Linked DNA regions of Homo sapiens: region 1 is linked to region 2. Evidence: fine-mapped expression QTL. A gene starts in region 2. The other region holds a variant in brackets. All regions are shown on one strand. Distances are between the middles of the regions.

Region 1 (15,221 bases), 88 kb after region 2:
GCCGAAGTACTACAGGTAATTTGGCAAATTCTCTTTTATGGGTACCAGATAGTGCTATTTCCACCCAGAAGCTGGCTACAGCTCTGTAATGTGACATGCTTACTCCTGGCTATTCTGGGCTGGTCCTCGTCTGACTAATGAGCTCATTATCCACTGGGCAGTGGGATGGAAGGACATGAGCACCTCAGCTGTCACTGCCGAGCTTCCTCCCAGCCCCACCAGGCCCTCTGGTTCCTGATGCTTGTCTGTAAGACCAATGGGTACTTTAACTTTTGAAGGTGGTTTCTGGTTCCCCCAATCGGTGAGCCCAAAGACCTCAAATAACATTTTATTCACACAGACTTCTTAGAGATGAAAAGTTTCTAGAGAGCAGAGCCTTTAGGGAACTAGTGATGATGCATTCACTGAATAAATCACAGTATTATACTCAAGAGCAAATACGTTTTCTTTCTTATTGGTGTCATCTTTCCTTGTGAAATACGGCAACTGATGAAGAAGTCTCCTATTGAGAATAACCAGACGAAATCACAAGGCTAGACAAGCAGCTACTAACACCATCCCCTTCCCCCTGCCCATGGTAAACCCTGCTGGCAAATGTATTTCTCCCTCCTAAACCTGGGAGGACTCACGTTTCTGCACCCAGAGCCCCAGGTGGAAGTAAACAATGGGAGTGAGCCGATGAGGTGGGATTGCTGTTCCTTGACTCTTAGTGCTTCTCATGCTAGTCTCCTGGGGATGCAGTTAAAATGCAGATTCTCTCTCTAGATCTGGGGCGGGGCTTGTTCAGCAGGCTCCCAGGGGAGACCAACGCTGCTGACTTGTGGGTCATACTTTGAGTTGCAAGGTTGCGTACGTGGTATTTGCCAGTGTGCACATTCATGAAAAAGTATCCTGCCTTAAGCCTGGTAGATCCACAGTTCCAAATCAACATTAAATACATCTGGTATACTTAAGAAAATTCAACATAAAAAGAAATCCATTTCTTAAAAAAAAAAAAGGCAGAGCAACCATTCTCTTTATCTGAGGACCTTTAAAAGCATCTGCCTTTATGTGTCACAGCATTAGCTACTAATTACTAAAGGAAAAAGTGCTGGGTGAATTATCACCTGAAAATAAAGTAACTCTCAAATGTTATAAAACATAAGATTAATGTTGACAGCCTCTGTTACTATGACATATTGTGTGCCAGGTGTGTGTGTGTTATAGGTGCATATATGTATATATATACACACTTGTATGTATCTGTGTATATGTACACATATCTATGTATCTATATAGACAGATGGGTTATTTAAATGAATTTTCAAAACACTAATAAGGTGTGATTTGATAAATGAATAATATTTAATAATAATATTAAAATAATATATTTGAATATTATTATTCTCCTGCTACTGATGAGAAAACTAAGGCTCAAACAGTTTAAGTAACATGCTAGTAAAAAAATGTTCTGAGTAGAATACCACATGTCTGGCCTAACCCTGACTGTCTTTTTTCTGACCCGAGACCAGTCCTCCACGTGGGGAGCTCTGAACACCATATTTATAACAGATGGTTATTTATAATGTCTTTCTCTTCTTTGGCAATTTAAATGAAGACGTCAACTTGAAGAAATGTTTCACCAGGAAGAATTGCAAAGAGAGCTGAATTAATCAAAGAAAGACGAATAAAGTGTTCTTTTAATATGGAGTACATAATTGTTGATGGAAAACACAGTCTTGGCAGAATTAAAAGATAATCAAAGAGATGAATAGGGCAAATAGCAATTCAGCTCATTAAATAAATACAAGGAAACTAACCTCTGCAGTTTAACCTTGAGCGATACCTTTTCCCATGAATAGAGAGTGTCGATACTAGGCAACAAGCCTCTGAACAGATAGTGTTACCCGGAACATCACCCTTTTCTCCCTTTGCTTCAAATCAAAACCAGCATCCCCCATTTAGACAGCATAAAAGGTATGACAAAACGGGACGCCAAGTGAGACACTGTTGATTCTGTTTCTATGAAATTCTAGAAAAAGCAAAACTGTCATGACAGAAAGCAGATCTGGGTTTCCAGAGCCCAGAGTGGGGGGAGGGGACTGACTTCACTGAGACACAAGGAAACTTTTGGGGATCATGGAAAGGGTCCGTACCACGGTTGTGGTGGTGGTTATAAGACTATATATTTGTCAAAAGTCTTCAAAGTGTGCACTTAGAATTGCTGAAGTTTATTGTACATAAATTACATGTAAATATCATAAAGTGCATGTAAATGGTATGTGAGGTAATAAAGCAATTTTTTAAAAACAATTTTAAACCTGGTATAGCATTTTGTTTTTTTGTGTGTCTGACTCAGACCAGGCAAAATTTAGTAACCCTTTGGCAACAGAAAATCAGCACAGATATAGAGCTAGAAGTTATTGTAAAAGAATAATAGTGGCGGCCGCCACGGCGCAGGAGTTGCCAAGATTTTCCTGGATGAATTCCATCCAAGATACGGTTTTAAGTCTCTCAAGGCCTTTGGATGCCTAGAAAGTGGGTCATCTTTCAGAATATCTGCGTCACTGTGGAGATGTTAGTAAATCAAAGACCAGCTGGATTTGTCCTTAAATGTAGCAAAATATGTACTTGCTTGGAAGTACTCTTAATCCTTTCATTCACTGGACAGGGAAGACTGGTTTCACAGTCCTGACTCCCTTCATTCGTTATCAACACCTCGTATTTTTTTTTTGGTAGATGATATATATGAGGCAGTAAACTTGTGGTCTGGAAAAGCAGAGATCATATTACCACTCTGTTTTAACTTCTAAAAGTTTGAAATTAAGACTTATACCAGGTATTTTTATGGAGTGGATTGGAGTATAGAAGCAATTATTTTAACTATTTGCTAAAAAAAAATTGCCTAAAATATTCAGTTATTAAAGGAAAAGCATTGTTCTGGATTGGATTCTTCAGATAATTCTGCTTTTGGCAACAAGTAACAGAAAACCAACTTAAATAGGTTTGGACAATAAGGACATTCACTGGCTCGTGTGTCTGGAATTCTAGCAACAGCAGCATTCAGGGTTGGCCAGACCAGGATCTCAACAATCTTATTAAACCATGGTTTTCTTCTCCTCTCTCCACTCTGTTGACAGGATAGCTTCATCTTAAGACTTGTTGTCTCATCAGTGTAAGATGACTGCTAAGTTGTATGTGAGCCCACAATTTCCTCATTCATTCCTTGAAGGAAGAAAAAAGATTTCTTCAGGAACTTCTGACTTAAAAGCAATGAAGGACTTTCCCAGAAGTCCATTTCTCATTGGCCCGAATTGGGTTGTATGCCCATTTCTCATTGGTTCAAATTGGGTCACGTGCCCAGTCACTGACATGGAGGATACGATTTCCCTAAACTAATCAGGCCTCCCGCTACAACTAGAAGGAGACTCAGCTCCCACAAACATATGAATTGATGGTGCGGGAGAGTGTAGTGGGAATTCTGTTAGGAAAGAGAAGGAAGTCAACAATCGGGTACGCTGTGTCTAATTTAAGTCCATGACTTTAAAAGTGAGCTTTTTTTTTTGTTACAAAAATAATGTAGGCTTAATTTTTTTTTTTTTTTTGAGACGGAGTCTCCCCGACACCCAGGCTGGAGTGCAATGGCACGATCTCGGCTCACTGCAACTCCGCCTCCCAGGTTCAAACGATTCTCCTGCCTCAGCCTCCCGAGTAGCTGGGATTACAGATGCCCACCACCAAGCCCAGATATTTTTTGTATTTTTAGTAGAGACGGGGTTTCACCATGTTGGCCAGGCTGGTCTCGAACTCCTGACCTCGTGATCCGCCCGCCTTGGCCTCCCAATGTTAGGCTTAATTTTTAATTTTCAGAGATTATTTGTAGCTGAAAAGAAGAAAGTAATTAATGAAATGATACGGCATACTTTTAAACAATAAATATCATATTCTACATACTGCAGACACATTACCGCATAATGGTTAAAAATACAGACTTTGCTATCAACCTCCTGGTTCATCTTCTTACTGTCTGTGTGTCCTCCTTGGGTAAGGTACATAGCTTTCCTCCACCTCAACTTCTTTCTCTCTGTAATAGGAATGATAGTAGTATCTGTACAAGTTTCTCCAGCACTAAGCCTCTCATTCAGGGGTCAGCAAACTACAGCTTGCAGGCCAGACATGCAGGCAACCTGTTTTTGTAAATAAATTTTATTGGAAGCCATTTATGTATCGTCTATGACTGTTTTCACACTACGATGGTAAAGGTAAGTAGTTCCAACAGAGGTCTTAGAGCTCACAAAACCAAAAACATTTAATATATAGCCCTTTGCAGAAAACGTTCGCCAACCTCTAGGTTAATACATAAGATCTTTATTTTCTTGTCAAAATCTAACATGTCATAATTCTGTGGTCATTGAGTGACTGGAGATCTGCCAGAGAAAGGCAATTATCTACAGAGCTAACATGAAAGCAAGAGATGCTCCTTTATTTTATCACTTAAAAACAGTGAAGAATCATGAACAACTGAAAAATCTACAAATGTGTTTAAATGTCAAATTAGGCTGGGCATGATGGCTAATGCCTGTAATCCCAACATTTTGGGAGGCGAAGTCAGGAGGATTGTTCAAGCCCAGGAGTTCAAGACCAGCCTGGGCAACACAGCAAGACCCTGTCTCTACTACTACTACTACTACTACTACTACTACTACTGCTACTAATAAGCCAGGTGCTGTGGCATGCACCTGTGGTACCAGCTACTCAGGAGGCTGAGGTGGGAGGATTGCTTGAGTCGGGAGGTTGAGGCTGTAGTGAGTCATGATTACACCACTACACTCTAGCCTAGGTGACAGAGAGAGACCCTATCTCAAAAAAAATTTTTTTAAATTTTTTTAAAAAGTCAAACTATCTACCTGAACTGACCAGAGATCTTGAAATATGTGATGTAGGATTTCCCTTCAACTCTGGGATGTTGGAACTGGAAACTTGAGTGAGAGTGAATTTGTTCACACTCATAGCTAGTGGATAGAAGTCATAGCTCTCAGCAGAAGTCTGAAGAGGAAATAAAAGAGAGCCAGTAATAAATTGCTGTGAATATTTCTTTTGAAAAGCAAAGAAAAAAGTATTGCCACCTGTGTGTGCTGAATGGACAGTGGTATTGATATGTAGACAAGGGATCCTGTCAGGGAATCCCTGGAGAGAGAAGAGTCTGAGACTGACACTGCCCGGCAGCCCCAAGTCTGAGTTGTGGAAAAGCCCTCAGTAAAAGGAAAAACTCATGGCAACGAGTTGGTGGTGATACTTTCATGGAGGAACATTGTCCTTGCAGGATGGGTGGTTTTAATCCTGAATTTAAAGATCTTTAAAATCTAAATTATCTAGTCAAATTTTTTTCATAAAACAATGTTTTAATTAAAGATTCAGTTTTAGGTCAAGTGCACAGTGTCTTTCTTTAAAAATATTTAGATGTGGCCATCAACTATCAAGAATGTTTCTAGAATGAAATATATTCAGCAGTGCTGTGTGGGGATCAGGAACACAGGCTCCACCAATCAGTTGCCTGGTTTCAATTCCTGGCTGATTTACCTGTGTACTATTCACTCCTGAAAGTCCTAAGCCTTGTTTTCCTTATTTATAGAATAAGATTAACAGAAGTACTAACTTTATAGAGCTTTGATGAGACTTAAAATAATCCACGTAAAGTGCTTAGTCTAGAATCTAATATCACACACTCCATAAACACTAGCCATTTTAATGTATTAACACATAGAAATGAATTGTAGAAAACATTTTGGCAACAAACTATACCATAATATATATTTGTAATCTATGGAGTTCCTATCTTTCACTTTTGATATTCCTGTCTTGTTTTTTGAGCAGCAAAGGTTAAGGTAGACACAGAAAAATCCCTCACTGGGGTCTTCAAATTTAGAAGGTTAGCTCAGGGGTCATCTTAATAGACATTATATTAGTTAAGATCCAGGTCAACTTGCTAATGAAACAAGGCCCCAAAAATACAGTGATGAAAAAGATAAAAGTGTCTTTCTCTCTAGCACACGCACACAGAGGTGAGCAGCCAAGCTCTAGTGAGGCAGCTCTACTCCATGAGTTCCATTTATCTTGCATCTCCACCATCGCCTACACAGGTGGTATGGTTGAAGCTCACCAGCATCTTCTTCCAGCAAGTTATTACCTTTTTAAATGCAGAGACCTAGAACTTATACACATGACCCCTACAACCACCTCATTGCTGAGGTCTTAATCACAGTGCCACTCACAGTTGAAAAAGAGGATAGAAAAAATGACTGTCACTAGGCTGCCATATGCCCAACTAAAATTCTACGTATTCTCAAAAGAGGGAAGGGAAGCATGGATGGTGGAATCCATCAGCAGTCTTCCACGGCGATTGTCATGGAAACTATTGTTTTGTTGACTCTAGACACTATTGATTTTAAGACACATAGTCATTTTATGTACCACTAAGTAAAGGAAACCATGTTGTTTAAACTGGGACACATTTCTTTCTTACCAGCTCAGTTGTAGGACACCTTCCAATTAAGAGATGTTAAAATGTAGAAAACCAATGTGTCTTGGTATAGAAGAAATACAGGATTGTGAAGACTTTGGAAAAGAAAGTGACCAAAGGCATTCATTTTGCAGTCTACTTTTGTGTGTGTGTGACTTTCCTTGGAGCAAAGATAGGCATAAGATATCAAGCTTTGGTTGATCTATTGAATTTACTGTTTAGAATCTGTGATTGACAAGGTACTATCAGTGTGTGTATGCTCTAAGTCAAATTCCTGTGATTACTGGTAGAGAGACTTTAGCTCAAAGCTTTGGGGAAAATGTGCCTAGATTTTCATTCAATCTGGGCCAAATCTGGAGTTGTACAAATAGATAGCATCGGTCTTGTCCTTAGTAGCCAGCATTTTTGTTTAATAGGAGGAGAGAAACCCAGGACGACACTGAGGAACAGATATGACCAGGGCACTTGACTTCTTGTTTCAGCACTCAGTCATTACACAAACAGTTGTTGAACACCAGGCACTTTGCTTGGTGTGACAATGCACTCCCGCCTTCCAAGAGCTCCAGACCCACAGGGGAGTGCTGTTGTACAGGTGCTAGGATAGAGGTCCGGGGAGTAGAGGCAGAATTTGGGAGCCATCAGTTCTATCTGAGGCTAGGAAAGGCTTCCCAGGGGAGGTAAAATCAGGACTGAGGAGGTCAAAGAGCCCTCCATGCAGAGGTAAGAGACTGACAAGCACAGGAAACTGGAGCTGCGGTCACTGCAGGGTATCATGCTCTGATGCTTCCGCATGTTAGACTGGAGGCAGGATGTGGGGATTGGGGGGTGTCCTCTCCAGCTTCGCTTTTTTCAGTGTTTTGTATGTAGTTGGCCAATAGCAGTATTTGTTGAATTGAATTGAAAAGACCAGTTTCTTGGATGGCCAGCTAGAGATGAGCTGAATTTTTCTGGATCAAAAAGATGTTAGATTACAATAAATGGGCAAAAGCAAAATAATACCTTTGGTGCTTACTCTTAAACTTAACATTACTCTATTTTGTTTGTGAAAGTCAGATTTGAGGATTTAGTTTATAAAGAAACCCTTAATTGGTTGGATCCCACTTGCTTCACCCACCCTGACTCTCATTTCCCCCAATGTAATAAATGTGCATATGTATTTAGAACATACAGAGCAGTTTAACATAAAGTACTGAAATTATCCTAAGAACAGATTCTCAGTGCAGCAATCCTATCTTTGTGAATTTGATGTGTTCTAAATGCAAGAGCAGAAGTGTTTTAATTGTCAGGTTTTAAGATATTATGAAAGCCCCTAGTCACTTCAGTAAGATCATTTGATTCTGGTTAATGACAAGTCTATACTATGCAGGTTTTTTTTTTTTCTGTCTATTGCTACTGAAATCTGCTTTTCTTATATAGATCACTGTTACAGATGAGGAAGTTAGTAATCCATCCTTTTTAGATCTGGTGAGAACTCCCCAAATGAGGAAATGCACACTTATTCTTATGTTTGCTTGGTAAGTTTGACTTGTGATGGATTTAAAAGCTTGCGTTAAATTTACAATACATCCCTTCCTTCAAATCAGCTTGAAGTTATCTCTTACTTGTTCTCTGGTGTCTTTCAATGTTGCTACAGGTTCACAAGCGCAGTGGTGTATCAAGGACTTGTCATGCGCCTGGGAATTATAGGGGGCAACCTCTATATAGACTTTTTCATCTCGGGCGTGGTGGAACTGCCAGGAGCTCTCTTGATCTTACTAACCATTGAGCGCCTTGGACGACGCCTCCCCTTTGC[G/A]GCAAGCAATATAGTGGCAGGGGTGGCATGCCTTGTCACTGCGTTCTTACCAGAAGGTAATCTTACCCCACATCTGTTTGGCAGCCAAAGGACTTGAAAACACCTAAATCCACAATCAAGTATAGGGAGCCACTTGTTCTTAGGAAATGTGCAATGGAATCACAGTCTTTCGTGATGTCACTCCATTTTCTGCTTAATCAGCATAAAAACTTCGAAGTAAGAGATTGGTTCTGTAGATGATTCTCTTTTCTCAATTGCTAGGATCATTTATGAATGAAATAGATATTGTGCCCAATCTAGCTGATAGCGATGTGGTTTCTGTTACTCATCTTTATGTGACTTACTTTTGTGATATCTCTGATGTTTAACTTATTTCCTGAACCTCTGCCATGCTGCTGGCACCATGCTAAACGCTGAGGTTACACATAGAAGAACGCAGTCTTGACTTCGAATGGTTCACAATCTATTAAGGGATACAGATACTTTAATATTGTCACGATTCTTATTGTCATGAATTATTTGTGAGATTTAGAAACTAATTAAACTATTTACAAGATTTAGAAATATAAAAAAATAGATTGGGGAGGAGTGATCAATCCAGAAGGGGATTCAAGAAAAGCTTCCCAGCAGTGGGAACTAAACATGCGTGAAGACTCAAATGTGCCAGATATCAGGGAGAGAGAGGACGGACGTTTCCAAACTAGAGAAGAGTTTCCAGAAGTATGAAACACCTTTGTGCATGCAGGAACTGAGGGTTCATTGCTGTGACTGGAATCCAGACAAGGAGCCTGAGAGATGATCTGTCACCAGCATGACCAGCCCTGCAGGTGGTCCTGTGAGCTTGCGGAGGAGGAGGAGTGAGTTTGGCATAACTGCAGCAGTTTAGAGATGGCTATGAGCAGGGGGAGATGCTGAGAGCAGGAGTTACAATTGGGGCAGTCAGACCTAGATGAGAGAGGGTCATTTCATTTCAGAGATGTTGCAGAGTTAAATTTTTCAGAGCTCCATGCCTGGTAGATGGGGTGCAGGCCAGAAGGAAGCAGAGGGTGCCGTGACTCCTGATGTGTGGTGAGCAGCACCCAGAAGATCCTTACCCTAGAACACACCAGGAACTGGGAGGAGGAGGGCTTCACATCCCAGGGGATGTGTGAAGTAGAGCAAGTTCATCATTCCCCTCTTCCAGGAAAGGCAAAGTGGGGATTACAGAGAAAGCTGGATTCTCCAGGCATCCTTTGTGTCTGCACAAAAAAGGCTGTCTTTCTTTGAGAATCCTCTGAGGACCAGCCAAGAAATGGACAATATAGTGGGAGTCAGAACAGTCAGACATTTACAGATGAGTTTATTAATTAAATGAAGGTTTATGAATTCTTAAAACACGAGGTAGGCCCTATTTGAATAAAATTACAGGAATGCCAATATTCGGAACACACACACACACACATACACACACACACACACACACACACACAATGTACAAGTCCCCTGACATGTTGGAATGTTTGATGATGAACAGCAACCACCTATTTACATTTCTCTTGTTTTCCTTGAGTGCATTCGCTTCCCAGGGCTGCTGTAATAAGTACCACAAACTCACCGGCTTGAAACAACAGACATTTATGCTCTCAGGGGTGTGGAGGCTGGGAGTCTAGAATCAAGGCATCCAAGGGTGCTTATGTCCAGAGGTTCTGGGGAAGGGTCTCTTCATGCCTCTCTCTGGCAATCCTTGCAGCTCCTTGGTGTCACTCCTATCTCTGCCTCCATATTCACAGGACATTCTCTTCTCTGCTTGTGTCAGTGTCACCTTGACTAATTACATCTGCAAAGACCTTATTTCCAAATGTAGTAGCCTTGAGGTTCCAGGTAGACATGAATTTTGGGAGACACTGTTCAACCCACTACATGGAATTAACATATTATAAGAGTTGGAGGATCTGTACAATAGCTATCTCTTAATACGTATCTATTTAGTATCGACTAATTGCCAGCCACTGAACTAGGAGGGGAATGGAGAGGTGAACAAAATAGACATAATTCCTGCCCTCAAAATTGTATAATTTAAGAAGAGTGAAAAATCGCAAACATTGGAGACGTTACTGTTCTATTTTACTTTGGTACTTTGGATATAACATACAACTGTAGCTCCCTGAGATGAAGTCTTCTGTTCTCATCGTATGTGGACTAGGAATGAATGAAATATTCATTGTATATGAAATTAGAAATGCAGCGAGAAAGATGCATGCTTCGGTGTGTCCCCTCATTTCATGATATATATATATACTTTACTCTATAAGATTTTCTCTGGTCCTAGATTGATTGGGATGACTTTAATGTTTGTTGCATTCAGAATGACCCCAGAAAGCATTCAAGGCTGTGTGTCCAAATCAAGACAGAAGTAACTAGCCGGATAGTCATATAACTATTTTGTAGAGAATTCTTTCATATATTGGAAAATATAACACCAAGAACAGACTGTTCTCCCTTGTCTAACCAGTTTTATTTTATAGATATAATTTCCTGATTGAAGCTTTAGAATTGTTCTCAGCAAGACTGAAAATGAATTGCTCTTATTCTAGACACATTTTATTTTTACCTTCTGCAGACTTGGCTGCTTTTATAGTCATATGTCAGTCATGACTGACTGGCAAGAATACATTTCAAATCCCTAAACTGAGTTCCAAATATTAACAGACGATCCTCCCTTGAGTCCTTCCAATTTAAAGACCCATTGGACTTGATTCCAGCCACTGGTTAATTAGCACGAGAAAGGCTTTTCTGCTCAGCCATTCCTGACGTCAGTAGTAGGTCGCCAGCCCCTGGGGAGAATACAGATGAGCTTTTGGAGAAACCAGCTCTAAAATAGTCTCACAGCAAACACTTTAATCAGCTTTCCCTCCACTCGACCCAACTTTTCATGGTCTAAAGAATGGAATTCTGGAAGAAGAAATAGTAGTTCTGGTTGTATTCTCATCTCAGACTCACTGCTTCTAGTCCAAATTTCTTAACACTCATTAATGTCTGGAAAATAAAGACCTTTCTTTATCCATACCTGTCTGCCATCTTTAATTTGAGTTTATTTAGGATGACCACAAACCTAGCAGTTTGGATAAGTCGTCTTCTTGAACTGGAAAACTTGTCTTCCACTTTTATTTTTCTTTAATTGAAAAGTGAGTTCATGTATCTTAATTTAGACATTTCTACTAGAATTTCTCACTAAACTTTATTTCAGAACTCAGAGTAGATGATCCATTCAGAGGACATATAAAGTTTTGTTTAAGTCCTGCATCCTTTCTTCAGGAATTGAGGTATTATTCCCAATCATCTCTAGTAGCTTGACCAAATCCACATTCAGAAGAAAACATTTTCTTTGTTCTCATGTAATTCCATGGAAGACAATTTTAGTTTCAGTACTCATTTTTAAATTGCCCTGTGGTTTTTGTCATTGCTACCAAAAGATGTCTATGGCCACCTCAAAATGAATTTAGCTTATTACTGGAATCAAGAATTTCTTTGTGTGTATATATTTATTCATACTTCCTACAGTTTTCTTTTCACTCTTTAGTTAATGAACCATGCAATGCCTTAGAAACTTTTCTTTGGTTACACATTTCAACAAAATCTCTGTTCCAGTATAGTTTGATACTGGACTCTACTGCTTGGAAAAGAGTTGGGAGTCTTTCAGATTAAGGTCAATGTTCCGGACAGACCACATCTCCACAAATGGGGCAACTTGGCATTTTCTGAATGTTTTACTGAATTGACTGGCTATTTATCTGAGTTAACCACATATGTTTATCATGGTGGAGTGTGTGTGTGTGTTTTAATTTGGTCTCTGGCTTTTGTTTGGATTTTTCCATGAAACACCTTGCCTCGGTTATAAACCCAAATTGCCCTTGAATTTGTCGGTGGGACTCAATTTTAGAGCAATCTTGATTTAGTGAAAAGAAACATACAATGGAAGAACCCAACCTGGATAGTGAAGCTGTTTCCTAGGTAGCAGGCAGCCTTCACTGCAGCCCGGGAGTGGCAGGAGATGGTCCCATCGGGCTGGGACCCAGGGAATCTGAGTCTCTGCTCCCACTTTCCCCTTCCAGTACCACATGCTCATTGAAAGATGGAGTGGAATGCATTACCTAGTCTCCACTCCCCCCTTTTCTTGGTCTTCATAAAGAAGCAAAGCCTAAATAACACATGTTGACAAACCTTCTGCTCCAGAGCAGACAGTGGCCCAGCACATCAGCACAACCCTGGCCTCCTCACTGCCTGATATAACCGTTAACGTGACAGCTACAAGGGTTCTCATGTGGGAAAAACATCAAGTGCACCAGGATGTCCTTGGCCAGTTTGCAGTCAAAATATGTAAACTTCAGACTCCCAGAAATGGTTTGGATTCTTGAGCCATCTTTTCCTTACACCTGTGCTCCTGGGCAATTGTTTTATTTAATGAATTTTAGCTTTTTTTTTTTTTTTTGACTTGGCTATTCTCTAGAGAGAACACACAGAAGTCTACTGGGCTTGATTCTCTTCTTTCATCCTCCTCATTCATTTCTACTAAAAAATTATATATTCAGGAAGGTTCAATAATTCCCCTAGGAAACAGGAGGACTATTTAGTGCTAAATGAACATATGTGTTGGATATAAAGGGAAAATGAAAGGCACATGAACACTGGACATGCTTCGTTTTGCTTTGGAGAGCAGATATGGTCTTGTTCATGCAGACATATGTCCTCAATACCAAATCCCCTAGGAAAGGATGACATCAATTGCACAACTTCTAGGAAAGCTAGAGCAGTGACTTTTTAGAGTAAAAATGGTTAACTCCTCTGCCCTTAAAACATAAAAGAAAGAAAATATTTAATATAGAATGTTTGGCATTTCCCACTAGTTAGTAGGGAGGAAAGGAAAATTTCTTCATACAACCAGAGCAGTCCTAAAACAGTTCATTTTAAAATGGACGAACCAATTAGCATTGATGAATGTGGCTCCTTCTGGATGGTTTATTGAAGGAAGTAGTACAATGGGGGATGAAGAAGACAATGAGTGACATTTGCCTTAGTGGTAACACACAGAATAGATGTCCCCTTCCAAAGATCCTGGTCCTCAAAGCTTGCTCCACTCTAGAAACCAAGGTCAGCTCACGTGAGGAACTCCCCAGGTGTGCTGGGAACGGCTATTCCTTGTGTCACCACCGCAAGGTATGCACAGAAAGGACAGCTGGGCACCAGCTGTGGGAACGTGGTGGCTCAAAGGCATGACTGGAAACTACCACCTGGACAAAAAGCCAGTGTGCTTTGGCTCTCTAGGAGGTCATTGCCTGGAACAATGTTCCAATGTAGTGGCTGCTCATGCTCAACAAACGGTTCTTGAATTGTACTTCCTATAATCCAACCTGCTCAGAAAGGCATCTAGCGCTCTAAAATATTAGCTATCATCTAGTTTCATTGTTGTTGAAATTTGGTTACATTATTAGAAAGTTCTATCATTTGTGCTTAAAATTGGCAAAGACTTCAGACTGGAGGCCACTAAGCAAATACTTTTTGTTGTTCTGTAAAATGTTAATGAAATCAGACCCCTAACTCCTCCCTTTCAAACTTTCTGTGTTTGCAGGAATAGCATGGTTGAGGACCACAGTGGCTACATTGGGAAGACTAGGGATAACCATGGCCTTTGAAATTGTTTATTTGGTAAATTCAGAATTGTACCCAACAACATTACGGTAATTCTAACAAACGTTATAGTTTCTCCTAAGTAACTCTGTAGACCAGCGTTTTAAGTTGATTTAGTTAAAAACTATGAAGTCGTTTCCTTAGCTCAGTGATATATTAGCCTAGGCTGAATCCAGCTAGTAAAGAAGATATGCTTTGAGTTATCACTGCTTTCTGCATTGCTGCCTGCTGCATTTTGTGATAAAAGTATTTCTCATATTAATATCTTCACACACTGTTACGGTTTTGAGGAAAGGCCCTTAACTTGAAACCAGAAGACCTCTAGGTGCCCTTGCTTAGACTGTGGGTTAAATCTGTATCCATCAGCATCACCTGCTGCAAGACTATGGCCTCTCTTTGACTGCATTACATGCATTGCAGTGGTGAGCAGCTGGTTATGAAGGATGAAATGAAACAGTGTGCACGGATTAGTGCAAATCAACCTCCTCTGCTGAGGAAGCATTCCCTGGGCACACTTCTCCCTCAGATGAGGAAACCAAAGTAGCACAAAGTGACCCAGAGCAGGCAGGGCAGTGGGTTGCTGATGGATAACACCCTCCACCCACGCTGGAGACTTCCTCACTAGCCTTACTGTGAAACGTGCAGAATGGAAATGTTTTGCTTAGAGTTCTGAGAGTAGTCGTTTTCAAAGTTAGAAAATGCAAAGTATCTTCACACTTCCTTTGGTTTTTTAATATGTCTGAATATGTTGATTATCTTGAAGTCACTTGTTGAAATAGTTTTCACTTAAAATTACTTTTCATTCAACAGAAATTTCGGAGTTTCGCTCTGTTCAGGTCTGTGTGATTTTGGGGGAATCATAGCCCCATTTCTGCTCTTTCGGCTAGCAGCCGTGTGGCTAGAACTACCTCTGATCATCTTTGGTAAGAACTCATTTGCTATTCTTAAGAGCCTTCATCTACATTCTTTGTACTAAAAGAGACCTATAATAATTGTTAGGTTCAATAATGATAATGATAGTCATTTATCTTATTATAATAACTATTTCATTGATAATTATGATATTAATTTCATCTTATTATAATAACTATTTCAGTTTTGAGAGCCAATTCAGTTATAATGAATGGTTTTAATTTACTTTATATTAAAGGGTGCTGATAAATAATGTTCAATTAGCATTCTTTGGGTTCTGAGTTAAATGCTGTGAAACTCTTATGGTATTGGAGAACATAACCAATAATTTTCAGGGGACTAAATTAAATATTC
Region 2 (15,221 bases):
AGAGGGAACCGGGGAGCCAGCCTGCCTTTGACAGTGGCTGCTAGCTTAAGTGGGGAGCCCCTGGTTTCTGAGGAAACCCCTGAGGGGAACATGTTGCCATGCTTGGGTGTGGCTGGAACCTGGGCACTGACCGGGCTGAACTGAGGAATGTGAGTGGGCTTTCTCACAAGAGGTTGGAGAGGCACTCTCGGTCTCAACGGGCTCTGAATTGCAGAAAGCCAGAAATGCACAAACCAGAGCTCTCTCATTCATGTTTAGGAAAGGCAAACAGGTCCCACGTACCCTTTATCTCACAGTAAATCTGAGATCAGAATTTGGACTGTGGATTCTAGGGAGAACCTAAGATATCTTAATATAAAAACAAAACAACACTTTGGTGACTTGCTGCTCATACTAGTTTCTTATCCATGAACTCTTCTCTTCTGCCATTCTCCTGGGCTTTTCTCTGAATGTTTACAGTAGCATCTCAGATGGAGTCTTCCCATTGCTGCTACTCAATATAAATTGTAAAATTATCTAGACAATTAGTTACATAAAACAAGAATAAAAGACAGTTAAAACAGAAATATTTGTATATACTCCTGTCATTTACATCAAATTTCCTAATGATATTCTTGTTCCCCTTCTGTTTCTTTGGGACTCATTATAAAAAGTTTTCCTTTTAAATTTTTCAGATGGATTTCACCTTTTCATGTTTAAGACATAGCTTTAAAATCTTACAAAACCAAATATTTCAGGCTGGGCACAGCGGTTCCTACCTGTAATACCGGCATTTTGGGAGTCTGAGGTGGGAGGATCGCTTGAGCCCAGGAGTTCAAGATCAGTCTGGACAACCTAACAAAACTCCATCTCTACAAAAGATACAAAATGTAGCTGAGTGTGGTGGTATTTGCCAGTGGTCCCAGCTACTTGGGAGGTTGAGGTGGAAGGATGGCTTGAGCCGAGGAGTTTGGGACTGCAGTGAGCTGTGATTGAGCCACTGCACTCCAGCTTGGGTGACAGAGTGAGACCCTATCTCAAAAAAAAAAAAGAAAAAAGAAAAGAAAAATTTTTGAATATTTCATCTTCCAGTGTTCTACAAACTGCCTCAGAAAACCTGCCTTAGTTTGTACAGGTTTTGTACAAATATGTACAAACTGCGCGAAAAATAACCTGGATGGCCATAATTTATACATTTTGGTTTCATGATAAAGGAAAATAACTTGAATCCGCTGCATTTTACAACCAGGAAATGGTCTAATGATCTTAATTTTATTGTATTTTGAGGAAGAAATCATTTATTGGTTTATACCACAATGAGAAATTATGATTTGACTCAGAAAAAATCACTTATAATTAAAAAATACAAACAAAAACTAATTGCAAAAGTAATCTACAAGTAGAATGGCGACTGTAATTTAAAATTTTTTTTAAGTATCCCATTAATACTTTTCACAAAAGTTTACATCAAACCTTCACAGTGTTATAAGTGAACCTGCCTACTTTAACAGTGTTAGGAATTTCAGTCTTAGCATTTATTGTGCCAAATCCAATGACTTCTGAACCCAGCACTATGGGCTTAGCATTGGACAGGCTCTGAGCCTGGAAGGTGAAGATTGGTCACATCAGGGTAAAAACAGTTTAATTCGACTCTTATACAACCACATGTGCAACATTATTTGGATAGTGATCCTCTGCACGTAGAGATGAAGCTTCATATTCCATTTTAAGATTTCTACAACACAAGCAAACATAGAAGGCCAAAAAATCCAGGTTTCCAAATTGTTAGAAACCACATCTGTATATGGTTAGAATGGAATATTCTAAGAGAATTTCAGTAGCTCTGTGGGAAAAAAATGTGATTCATTAGATGAGGCACTTTATGATGTGACTTAAGGGACAGGATGCCTGCCCTAAGAGTTGTGGAGGCCGATGAGGAGTATTGTGGCAATGTGGTGCTTCTCCAGCTGCATTGATCAGTGGAAGGTTGACCACCTTTTCACACTCATTCTGCCACTCTCCTTTTCTCTTCCTGTGTTGGACATTCCTAACCAGCTGGGGCCTGTTTTCCACTCAGCCTCAAAGTCAGCCTCAACACTGTGCTCTAGATAGCTCCTGCCAAATGAGAGTGGTGGGGCATGAGCAAAAGCCTAGTTCCCATCCCTGCCCAAAACTGCTTGATGAAAAGATACGAACTCTAGAATTCTCTTGTTGTAATTCAACTCTGGAATATTTAGTCCTATTTAGCATTTTCTTTTTGGCTACCCCTTTCTCCAAAGGTGACTTTAAGTCTAAGATCCTATAGGCTTTAAATATAGAAAAAGCATCTATTTCAAAAGGTCTGTAATAGTTTCCCCAAAAAATGAAGACTTTCCTCTAACAAAGTCCAAATCATAATCCACTGGCAAGTGACAGATAATTATGATTGCTGGTCAATTTAACTCAACTTTAGGGTCTATTTATAGGCCATAGAATAATGGGAGTGCTCTGTAGATTTTATTACATTCACATGCTAAGGTAAAAAACAGCAACTCCACGCCAGATAAGGAAAGAATGAGAGACTTTCAGACATTCTTATCCACTTGTTAAAAAAGTAAATATGAATTTTCATTTTTTTTTTCTGTAGGCTGGAGCACATGTACCAGTTCACCTGCCAAATTTCCCTCCCATGAATCTTAGGAAAAAAGTCTTGAAACCAACATTTATTATAGCATTCCCAAACTAATCTTCTTAGTTCTTTACTCTTCCCAAACTGCATAAGTGTCATGATGACTTAGTTCAGCAACTCAATATGTGGTGAATATTCTGGTATTGGTATATTCATTTCTAAATGCAATAAAACTACCAACTATAAAACTTCAGATGAATAAATTAAAATGATTACCTTTTTAAGAAAAGTTAATGTCAGCATGTTTTTACAAAAGCCTGCGGTTGTGGGGCAATTGATTCTTATTATTGCTATTTAACCAACATTTATTGATTACTATGTGTTGATTAGCTCTGTGCACCAGAATGTCTGGTGGCGACTGAAATGTTCTCTCTCTCTCTCTGTGCAAGCCAATGTGTTAGTTCCTGCACTTGTGGCTGCTGAGCACTTGGAATATGCCTGGAACATAATTATTCATTTTATTTAATCTTAATAAATCTACGTTTAAGTGGGCACAACATTTTGGATGGTGCAGATATAGAACAGATAACGGATGTTTCAAAGATACAAAATTGAGAGTGATTCGGTTTTTCTCTCAAAATGCCTACAATGCCATGGAAGAAAAAAAGTGCATACGTGATTTAAAACTAAGACTTCAACTGATTTTTGTGGAATTTGATAAAATGTAAAGGTTGTGTGGAAGAAAAAGAGTCCAAGAATAGTCAAGGAAATTTTGGAGAGGACAAGGTGAGGGGAGAGGAAAGGTGGGATTTGTCTTATTAGATATTACCAGATTCAGTAGGACAGAATGAAGGCTCAGAAACAGATGGAAGCAGGGGCAGGAACCTAATTTAGGAGACAGGCAATAGTGTAAGTCAAGAAGAAGTTCAGTTAAGTGGCATCTGGGCAAGTGGTTGTCCATTCGAAAGAAATAAGTAAAGTTAGATCCCACCATTCTCTGCACAAAAATAACTCCAGAGATATTAAACCTCAATTTGAAAAATAAGATTTAATAAGAATATATAGAAGAAAGTACTTAAGATCTCACACTAGAGCAGGATTTTTAGAACAAGTCTAAAAAAGCAGAAGCTATGAAGGAGGATGATCAGTTTTACTATACGACAATTTAAAATTTGTGTAGCATCCAAGATGCTAAAAGTTAAAAGACAATCCCCAGACTGAGAAGATTGTATATATACAGCTGGCAGAGAAGCAGAATACACAAATATGCAAATAATTTCCCAAAAATCCAATAAGAAAAAAAACCGCCACAAATAACAAAGAGAGCATAAGCAGATGATAGGAAGAAGCAACTCACAGAAGAGAAAACCTGAATGATGAATAAATATGTAAATGTGTTAGTCACATCCCTGACTAGATCAGAACAATGGGGCCACATTTTTCATCCATAGTATCTGCTAGCGTGGTTGAGTCTAACAAGACCAAGTGTTGGTATGGACGTGAAGCAACTCATGTGTTGCTGGTGGGATGTCAGTTGAGGACAGCCATTGACAGCAATGTCTAGTAAAGTTCAAACATGCACACTTATGGTTCATCTAGTCTACTTCTAGGCATTTATCTTTGACCAATTCTTGCATAAATACATAAAGAAATATGCACAATATGTTCACTGCAGCACAATTTGTAATTGTGAAAAATTTTAAATGAGCTAAATGTTCCCCAGTAGGGGAATGGAAAAGTCATAGGATGACCTTTCAATAGAAAGACACAAGAAGTTAGAGTAAACGAGCCCGATCTCTATATATCAAGGCTAACAGGTCTCAAAAATATATTGTAGAGTAAAAAAAAGGAGGGACAGAAAGCTACATAGAGTATGGTACCATTTATGTAAAATTTTCAAAGCACTCTAAATACTATCTACTGTTTCGTTGCAATACCTGTGTGTTAAAGGCTTCAAACAGATAAGAATCATAGCTTCCTGCGAATTACATCTGGGCAAGAGAGGCCTGGGGCCTTGCGGGTGCCCACTCAGGCCCTACTCCTGACCTCCTCAAGGGGCAAGAGGTTGCGCTCACCTCAAGCCAATCACCCTCACTCCCCAACCCACTTCCAACCACACTCTGAGAGCTGGGACCCTGGGATTCCCTGCCCGGTAGCTCTGAGCCCCATGTCCCAAAGAAAAGACCTAATGGCTGCCCCAAGGAGGAAGGGAGGAGACAGAGGATAGGATCTGAAGCAACAGGAAGGAGACTCCAGTCGTGTCTGTGATATGTCAGGACTTTATAACAATATATCCAAAGCAAACATAAGATGATGTTTGCTAATTCTGGGGGTGGGTGGTGGTTTTATCGCTCTTTTTATTATTAGCTGACTCTTACCTAGCACTTATGTTTCAAGGCCTGTTCTAAGTGATTTGCATTAAAAATGAGAGGGTTCTATTATTACTCAGTTTCACAGAAGAGGCTAAATAACTTGCCCAATATCACTCAGCTATAAGGAGGAGAGGGGGATTTGAATCCAGTGGGTCTGGCTCCCAGGTCCACCATGTAGCTAGCAACTATACTGGATCTATCTGTCCATAGGCTGAGATGACTTCCTTTAAAAAAAAAAAGTAATTAAAATTAAAATACCCTGACAACCACAATACAAAAAAAATATAGTGAACTTCCATGAAAATTTTCTTAGATATGTTAGGAGCACTGATGGGGACTGCATTGCTGAGGGAGGAAGGCCGTGGTGGTGGTTGCGGAAGACTTTAAAGAGGGGCTGTTGACATTTGAACCAGGCCTTGCTGGGTGATGGGCAGGGAGGAATAGGGGGATGAAATTCTAAGAAAAGGAAACTTTGTGTGTACAGGCATAGATTTTAAAAATTTCAAGAAGAATGTGAAGATTGGCAAGTAGTTCTGTTTGGCTGTCCACAGGGAACAATTTGAGGAGAAATACAGGTTAGGAGCTAGAAAGGGAGAGTGAGAAAGGAGGATTTTAGAAAACAAGGCAAACTGCTGAAGGTGGCACCCCCAAGCTGCACTGTGGGAAGATGATCCCAAGTGCAGGCTGGACCAGAGGACAGGTGCTGCAGGGACAGAACCCTGAGGGGAGCCCAAGGCAATCACATAGCTGAGATGAGGGGACATGTGAGTGTGTATGAGTGTGTGTGAGTGTGTGTGGTGGGGGAGTCAAGAAGCATCTGTTTATTTCACAAATATTTACTGAGCACCTACAATGCACCAAGCACTGTTCCAGAAGGTATCGATAGAAGAAAATACAAAACTGTCTGCCCTCATGAAACTTGAGTTGTAATGGAGAGACACAGATAAGATAAATAAATAAAATGAATAAGTATAAATATAAATATATGATAAATGAATAAAAACATATCTATGACAATATATGGTGATGATAAGTGCTTTGGAGACAAAGCAGGAAAGGGGGGAATGTGCTAGTGTATGCAGAGGTTGGGGTGGGTTGTTGACTGGTCCCAGTTCCCTGAAAATTCACTGACAAGAGGCAGATGGCTAGAAGAAAAGGTGTACTTATTTATTTAAGGTGTACATGGGGGCCTTCAGAAGGAAGGCCCAAAGATACAGGGGAAATTGCCTAGTTTTATGCTTAGGTTCAACAAAACATGGAGAGCCCTGTCGAAATAGGATTGGACCAAAAGGGTGTGATCTGATGCTGATACTGAGTGAGGAAACCCAGCGAGGCCGGTGGCTCTAGATTCTTCTTGGCCTCTCTGAGCAGCCTTTTTTTCCTTCTGGGTAAGGGGCAGGTTCTTCTGTGGAATGGGAGGTCTTAGGACTGCAATCAACAAGGTAGAACAGTTGATTTCTTTATGGCCAGTTTTTACACAGACAAGTGAGGGAAAATCACAGTGATATTTTTGTTTTATGACTGGCTTTGGGGAAAAGCGTTCTGGTTTCGATGGCTAGCCTGGGGGAGAATGGGACCGAGAGACAGGAGGGCAGAAGATGACACAGAGACTGCTTCTGAGGCCTTCATTTTGGCGTATTGTTTTCTGAGCTCCAACATTGGCAAAAGGGGTTCCAAGCCGAGATGACCTAAGAGTACAGGCCTGAGGAGTGAGTGGTGTCCCCGCCATACTGAGGTTCTGAGTCTGGGCCCAGGACATGGTTGCACCGAAAGGCAGGGCAGGAAAGGGGAGCTGGGTTGGAGGGGGACAGACTGAGTCTGGGGTCCAGCGGGCAGTTGAAACTGCTGGTGAGGACATGAGGCCAGTTTGAATCCAAGCAGCCTGGCTTCAAACTCCTTGTTCCGGAGGAGGAACCGCAAGTCCTCCCAAGGCCTTGGAGAAAAGTGAGCTAAAGGCAGAACGTGGGCCGATAACGTGGGGGCGTGGGGGGACCGCGACCCAGCCCGGGGAAGGCGTCCCAGCATGGACCCAGCAGCCTGGGCAGCCTGGGCGGGAAGTTCTGATCGCGCTCTGCCGAATTGGCAGGCGCAATAAGTAAGCGGAAAAACCAGGATTCAAACCAACCACCAACACCCTTCCCTGGCGTTCAGACCGAAGGTGGGTGGGAAGGCCCTGGCGAAGGAGGTCTGCATCAGGCCTGGCCTTGAGGCGATCCCTTCTCACCCCAAACCTCCTGGACGCTGAGCAAGCCCCTTCGCCTGTGTGGGTTGCCCGGCTGCCCTCTGGGGAAAGTTGGGTGATCAAATCCCAAGTTGTAGCTCTCGATGGGTCGAGGGCGATGGCCAGCGCTGTGCTGGGAACGGGCAGCCCTGCCCTGCCCTGCCCTGCCCTGCCCTGCCCTGCCCTGCCCTGCCCCACATGGGCGCAGGAGGCCTCCGCACGCGCAAGGGCCAAGGGCTGGAGGGGGCTCTCCCGGGCACAGGCACCGGACCCGGGGCGCGCGCGCGCGTCCTTAGTCCCCGGGCTGCACTCCGGGCCGCTGAGAGATCGGGTCCCAGAAGTTCCGGGAGTGGTCGGGTGACCCTGGAACTTTCTTCTTCTGGAGCCCGACCTGGGGCTGACTGCAGAGCAGGCTGCTGGCAGGGACCAAAAGGAGCTCCGCGCCAGGCCGGAGGCTGCGCCCGTCACTCGCGGTCCCGGCCGGGTCCCTGGCGCGTAGTCAGGCCGCACCGCCCGAGCCCCACCGCGCGCCCACCCCGGCCGGGTGCGTCCGGCTCGCGGCCGTCCCTCCCGCGACCTGTGGCCCGGGGCTGCTGCGGGCGCCCGGGGAAGAGAGGCGGGGGCCGCGGGGGGCAGGAGGAGCGGCTGCGGCCGGCACAGCGCCAGGGCGAGTGAGGCGGGTGGCGCGGGGGAGGCGGCGGAGTAAAGAGAGGCCGCCGGCTGGGTCCGCGGGTCACTCCGAGGCGCGGGCTGCGGGCGGCGGGCGGCGGGCGCACCATGCCCTCCTTCGACGAGGCGCTGCAGCGGGTGGGCGAGTTCGGGCGCTTCCAGAGGCGCGTGTTTTTGCTGCTGTGCCTGACGGGCGTCACCTTCGCCTTCCTCTTCGTCGGCGTGGTCTTCCTGGGCACGCAGCCCGACCACTACTGGTGCCGCGGGCCAAGTGCCGCGGCGCTGGCCGAGCGCTGCGGCTGGAGCCCGGAGGAGGAGTGGAACCGCACGGCGCCCGCCTCCCGCGGCCCAGAGCCCCCCGAGCGCCGCGGCCGCTGCCAGCGCTACCTCCTGGAGGCGGCCAACGACAGCGCCTCCGCCACTAGCGCTCTCAGCTGCGCGGACCCACTCGCCGCCTTCCCCAACCGCTCGGCTCCCCTTGTGCCGTGCCGCGGCGGCTGGCGCTACGCCCAGGCCCACTCCACCATCGTCAGCGAGGTAAGGGCGCCCCGGCCCTTTGGAAGCCGGCGGGAGAGGACGATGCTGGCTCCCAGGCGGACAAGCCGCGTGTGAGACGCTGGCCGCCAGGGGAGGTCGGTGGAGACGGGGACCGGTCGGCTACCTCTGGGGACAGACAGGATTCAGCGCACCCTTGGAAGTGCCGCGTCGTAAATGCTGGGAAAAGCCTTTCGTTATCTGCCTGAGCCCGTGAGTTAATGCACAGATACTTTGGTTTCGGGTGTGAACAAAAACTTTCTTCGAAGCCGAGTTGTAAACGCCTGGCGCACGCCTGCTCAGGAGTCAAAGACCCAGCACCGCGTTCCTTATCTTTGAGGTGTGCGGGCGCCGTCATTGGAAATTATGGTTAGGTGCGCGATAGGGAACTTCAGTCTCTGGGGTGAGCGACGTTGGCAGTTCCGGATTCGCTTATGGTCTCCAGGGTCAAAGGAAAGGGCGAACCAACGTTTGAAGGCAGCAGCAGCTTTTTTCCAGTTGCCCAAATGGTTACTCAAAATGCAAGGGGACAAAGGTCGAGGCTTTCCCGGGGAATGGTTTTGGTAAAATTGCTTTGGGGCAAAGAGCAACATCTGGGATAAGTTGGGAAAACTGAAGTATTGGATAAATTTTAGTTTTTTTTTCTGGTAATAAATTTTAGGAACATAGCGGGAGGGCCACAGCCTTCCAACGCAAATCCCCAACCCATTTACAGGCGGAGGCTGCTGCCGGCGGGTGGGCGGGGGCGATCCCCACATTTTGGGCAGTCAGTGCATTTGGAAGTTAGGGGAGCTTCCTTCACCCTTGCCCTCAGTAATCTGTTTCTGCATCCTTGCTGAAATGGAAGATTGCCTCTCTGTGAGGTCCAGATATAGAGCAGAGTCACTTTGTAATAATCGGAACTCAGAAACGGCCTCAATTGAGCATGGGTTGCAGAGATGAGCAGTTTTACTGAGCTTTGTCTACAATCACAGCTTAAGTTAATTTTAAAAAAAGATTGAATGTGATCAGGTACATTAGGAAAAAAGGTTTGTCTTTTTTTTGTGATAAACTTTAAAAAATCACCTACTTGAAGAGTGGGGAAAACACTGGATGAGGAGGTAGGAGCGCCCTTTCTGCCGCTGTTGCTGTTGGTCTGGTGAGCTTATCTCGCTGCAGTTGGGAGTGTCGGTGGTTGCAATTGTACATGTTTTATACGCCATGTGCTGGTGTGTTCGCACAGTGGATGGCTCTATGCTATGTGCTCCAGGGATAAAACCCATGGCAGGACAGCCAGGCGATGTGTGTATGTGTTTGGGATCTTTCTGTAACGCCGTGTGCTGCTGTGTTCGCACAGTGGATGGCTCTATGCTAAGTGCTCCAGGGATAAAACCCCCTGGCAGGACAGCCAGGCAATGTGTATGTGTGTTCAGGGTGTTTCTATAATGCCACATGCAAGTGTGTTCGCACACTGAGTGGCTCTATGCTGAGTGATCTCAGGATAAACCCCCCTGGCAAGACAGCCAGGCAATACATATGTGTGTTGGGATCTTTAATTTCTACTTAATCCATGGTAAGGCTGGGGACTGCTTTATAATTGGTGATGGTCTGGTTAGAGATTTCACAGTTGAAAGGACAGGGCATGGACTTGGATGAGAGAGGGCATTATCTCTGTGAGTCGCATCTGTTAGGTGGCTTCTTCCACTCCACTCAGCAGCGCTGCCTAATGCTTACTTCCCAAGTGAACCAGAGGACCCACATGGAGGGCAGACAGCTGATTTTTGGAGACATTTAAAGATGAAGAATAAAACGAGCCTCAACAAGTGCTCAAGCGAGGTTTGCATGAGTGAGTATGATCCATGGACATCAAAGAAGACAGACATAAAAATCTGTAATTTAATGCTCTGACGGATACTTTGGAAGCATTCTGGAGTTGCAGGGTTACTAGCATCCCGGGGTTACAATAAGGTGATTTTATGAAGATCAGTGGCTACTAAAATGCAGTGTGGAATGATGGAGGGTCAGGGGCTGGCTCGGTCTCCAGCTGGCTGTGTGGCTTGGGTGAGTTACTCGCCTTCTCTGGGCTTGTATTTTTCCTCTGTAAAATTAGCCATTGGATTCAGCCCGTTACAATGCTCCAAATGCCATCAGGGTCACCACCTGGTTACTGTTTGGTGTGCCCAGAACAATGATTAAAAAGTCTTTAAGAAAGTAGAATGATATTAGGAATGTACCCCGTAAAGCCCCAAAAAAGTTTTTGAAATATATTGGAGAGATTCTTTTTTGTTTTGTTTTGTTTTGTTTTCTTTGAGACGGAGTCTCTCTCTGTCGCCCAGGCTGGTGTGCAGTGGCGTGATCTCGGCTTACTGCAAGCTCCGCCTCCCAGGTTCCTGCCATTCTCCTGCCTCAGCCTCCCGAATAGCTGGGACTACAGGCGACTGCCACCATGCCCGGCTAATTTTTTGTATTTTTAGTAGAGGCGGGGTTTCACTGTGTTAGCCAGGATGGTCTCGATCTCCTGACCTCGTGATCCGCCCGCCTTGGCTTCCCAAAGTGCTGGGATTACAGGTGTGAGCCACCGCGCCCAGCCTCTTTTTAAATTCCAAATAGTTTTGTGCTTCTTTTGGTTTGTTTTTCATGTTTGGTTTCTTAAGAGGAAAACCCCCATCTATTCATAAAGTTCAACTATCCAAAACAAGTCAGCAACTCTCTGAATTCTGCATAGCTAATATTTTGCTGTCTTTGGTTCAACTAATTTTTTTCTTTCAAATTCTGTCTGATGAAAGGAACTGTAGTTCCATCTTCAGCTAACATTATGTATCCAGTGTATTTTTATAAACTTGAAGCCTAAGATACAAATCATGCAAAGGGGTGAATTGGGAGAGTTTACAAAGTGGGCGGGATGACCAGACTCCAGAATGCCTCCATATAGCTATAATACTTCATCCTTGCACCATGGTGGGAGGGGTATCATTGTCCTGGCTTCATAGAAGAGAGACCTGAGGACCTTCCAGGGTCCCACGCCATTTATGTAGCCAAACTGGATTCAAATCCGGGGGCCTTGATTGTAAGTCAGTCCACTTTCCTCCATAAAGTGCTCAAAATCCTTCAAGCAAGTCCATGAAACATAGTACTCAGATCTCTCACACTTTATAACCTGCAGAAACCTCGTTGAAACTTTGTATTTATTTTCTTACTATCATGGTCCTCCAATGGGCTACTTTGTTTCATTTTACGGTGTCAGGATCCACAGTCAGCCAGACTGGCAGATGGGGAGGCTGTGCTTTCATTTGGTGGGAATGGTTCTCTAGCCTCCTGATGTGAAAGTTGCAAAATGGTCATTTAAATCTCATACACCACCTTCGCATCTTACAACTTGAGATAGTTCTAAGACACTAAGTCAGAAATCAATGCCAAGGGCACATCCCTTTATGGCCAGCTCCTAATTTGTGTCTCCTGCTCAAGGCAAGGCAGTGGATTTATCACCCACATTGAACTTCCTCAGTGGAGACTTTTCTAATGTCCGAATCTCGGCCTTATCTTGTTGTCAGATATTGGGCAGAATAAAATACAATGTAACGCAGAGAAGCGAGTCTGACCCCCTGTCCCAAATATTTCAATTCACTGCCCAGGGAGTGTCTTCAAGATTGATGCTAGGATTTTTCAATGCTTGCTAATATGGTATGGATGAAAAAAAAAGAGCTTTTCCCTAGGCTATCACTCAGAGCAGGGCTTCAGAACACCTTTAAAAATAGACTGAATCACATTTGTTTTTCCTTTCCAGATCATTTTGACTTGGAATCACTTTTTCCCTTCCAGATTACCTGGCTGAATCTATAAAAACTGAATCCATTGTTTGTTTTTATTAGAAGAGTGTGTCTTTCCCATACTTTCTGAAACATCAACAATTCAACAAAAATTTTATGTTGGCCCTTGTCCCTCAGAGTAACTAGTCCTTTCTGTTGATGACAAAAGTGTTTTAATAGTGTAATAGGTTTTTGTTTTGTTTTGTTTTTTGACAAAGTCTCGCTATGTCACCCAGGCTGGAGAGCAGTGGTGCAATCTCAGCTCACTGCAACCTTGCCCCCCGGGTTCAAGCAATTCTCCTCCCTCAGCCTCCTGAGTAGCTGGGATTACAGGCACCCGCCACCGCGCCTGGCTAATTTTTGTATTTTTAGTAGAGACAGGGTTTCAGCATATTGGCCAGGCTGACCTCAGGCGATCTGCTTGCCTAGGCCTCCGAAAGTGCTGGGATTACAGGCATGAGCCACTGCACCCAGCCTAATAGTTTATTTTTAATGGAGTGAAAGCAGGACTCTAATGAGTGAACAGCCACCCCACTAGGTGTCTGATTCTTGGTCTAGGCAGCAGAATGGCCAAACAGATTCATGCAGCAATGCTTTCTGGACCTCAGAACAAGGAAAATATTTACAATAAGGACCTTCATTATGAGAATGTGCAAGAGTATCTCCTGCTCCTCTCTGGCAGCTGATATTTTGGATTATCAACATCAGTTCAGCTGAAGTTTATTTAGCATTTATTTTATTCTAGGCACTGGGCTAGGCTGGGGATACAAAGATACACGAGTCTTTCTCAAAACAGCGTGAAGCTTGGCAGGGAAAATTGCAGCGATAATGTGATGACAGTGGCTGTGGGTGTGATAAAGGGTACCACCCTCTGATGGGACAGAGGAGTGAACCAGGGCAGAAAGTACATTGACCTTAACCTCAACCTCTGAGTACAAGGAGGAGTCCAAGAGGAAAATATGAGGGAAAAGATGTTCTATTCTCACACCCTCTCATCTTCATTATTTTCTCTGCACCCATTTATTTTGTGCCCTCAGGAGCAGTGGTTGGTGTGCATTCTCGGGTCGCACACACAGGGTTTGGAATCAAAAGACGAGGGTTGGAGTTCAGGAATTTTCCTTTTTCACAAACATCTAGGGCCCTTTTCAGATGGTCCATGGACCACACAGAGAGACAAGCTGGGTGTTTCTTAATGAGGAGCATGATGAGAATATAATGACTGGGAGAGAATTGCCAGTTCCACCAAGCACACCCTGGAGACTCTCAGAGGGGAACATTATCCCTTTATCCTCAGACAGGTATCCCAAATCTTATCAGATGAAATGCTGCTGTTTATTTTCAGAGAGCTTTGAGCTCTCCAGGGATGGGCAACTGATAATAAAATCCTGGAATTAACTGGGGAGCGGGGGAAGCCCACAGCTGAACCACACTTTCTGGGAGTCTTGGTAAACCTTAGAAAGGAGCTTTGGGCAAAGGTAGGGGACTCCAACAGATGTTGCAGAGACATCTGTACTTTTGGACCCACGGGTTATTTTTGGCATTGACATCTTAGTAGAGTGGAAAGAATACACATGTCCTTTGGTGTCAGATAAATCTTGTCCTAAATCCCAGCTCCTCTATTAACTTGAAGGGCAAGTCAACTGAGCATCTGCCTGAGCCTCAGTTTCCTCAGCACTAGAATGGGTACAAGAATGCCTGCCTTAGCAATTGGCTTGACATATGCTTGCAAAGTGCCTGGTCATAGGTGGTGCTCAGAACAGTTGGTTCCTGTGAACACATAAAGACCCTTAAGCCAGGTGGGAGTCAGGAGGGAGGGAAGGAACAGGCTATGGGCCAGATTTGACCCTGGAGCTGTAAGTTTGCTGATCCCTGGTCTAGCATAATAAATCACTGATAAATTTGCCTTAAATATAAAGAGTCAAAGCCTTGGCCAGTTGTGGTGGTTCATGCCTGTAATCCCAGGAGTCTGAGGCCAGCCTAGGCAGCATTTTGAGACTCCAACTATACAAAAATATTTTAAAATTTTTAAAAAATTGGCCGAGTGTGGTGATGCATGCCTGTAGTCCTATCTACTCAGAAGGTTGAACCCAGGAGGTCGAACTGTGCTGCTGTATTCCAGCCTGGGTGACAGAGGAAGACCCTGTCTCTAAAAAATAAAATAAAATATCTCGGACACTAATTTGCTCTAAAGGCTGAGAATACCGATACTTTCCCACTGGACCCCACAGGTAGGTCATATTTCCCAGCTTCCCTTGAAGCTAGAGAGGCCACGTGTCTGAGTCCTGGTCAGTGATGTTGGGGAAGTGAATGTGGAACTGCTAAGCCTGGAGCCGGAGCAACCTTCCTCCTGCAGTCCCCGGAGGATGGTGGAACTCTTACACGGAAGGATATGCGTTCCTGGAGGCATGCGAGGCAGGCAGGAGCCCCACAGCTCCCCTCCACACCAATTCATCTGCACAGGAATATGGGATTGCGAATAAGAAATAAGCTTTATTGTGTTACACAACTGAGGCTTGGGAGACTGCTTGTTGCAGCTCTTCCTGTTAGGCTGCTCTGACTCATACAGCATCTTAGTGTGCTTCCTGGCAGGGCACAGGTCACGAGGCTGTGGGCACCTGACAAAATGGTATGGAGGCTGGTGCCTCTAAGAGCATCCTCCCCTAGGTCTGGTACACAAGGTCTCTGTGCCTCCACCCCATGTCTCCGCCTATAGAGGCTTTTCCCTCTCTTAGCCCCCGGGGCTCCCACTCTCCAGGCAGTCACCCTGGGACATGTGCCACAGCTGTCCTCCCCTTGGGCTCTTGTGTGCGCTGTTTCCTTTCCTTTCCTCAAAATACCTGTCTTTCCTCGGCCGGGCACGGTGGCTCACACCTGTAATCCCAGCACTTTGGGAGGCCAAGGTGGGCAGATCACGAGGTCAGGAGATCGAGACCATCCTGGCTAACACGGTGAAACCCCGTCTCTACTAAAAAAAAAAAAAATACAAAAACGATTAGCCAGGCATGGTGGCGGCTGCCTGTAGTCCCAGCTACCGGGGAGGTTGAGGCAGGAGA

The links. PIP is the estimated chance that this variant, and not a neighbour inherited with it, causes the effect. A credible set is the group of variants that fine-mapping cannot tell apart.
Region 1: its variant is the best candidate, but not a certain one, in a credible set for the expression of SLC22A3 in unexposed skin (GTEx, PIP 0.80).

What each region holds. Positions count from the first base shown.
Region 1 is chr6:160,428,865-160,444,085 of GRCh38, forward strand. It overlaps SLC22A3 (solute carrier family 22 member 3), which reads left to right. Exons shown (of 11, transcript NM_021977.4): 6 at 7,916-8,013; 7 at 8,133-8,347; 8 at 13,897-14,005; 9 at 14,766-14,878. Among named protein-coding and RNA genes, the nearest start is that of SLC22A3, 88 kb to the left of the region's middle. The variant G/A (reference allele first, on the strand shown) is at 8,292.
Region 2 is chr6:160,340,463-160,355,683 of GRCh38, forward strand. SLC22A3 (solute carrier family 22 member 3) reads left to right here and starts at 7,916. Exons shown (of 11, transcript NM_021977.4): 1 at 7,916-8,386. The coding sequence starts at 7,958.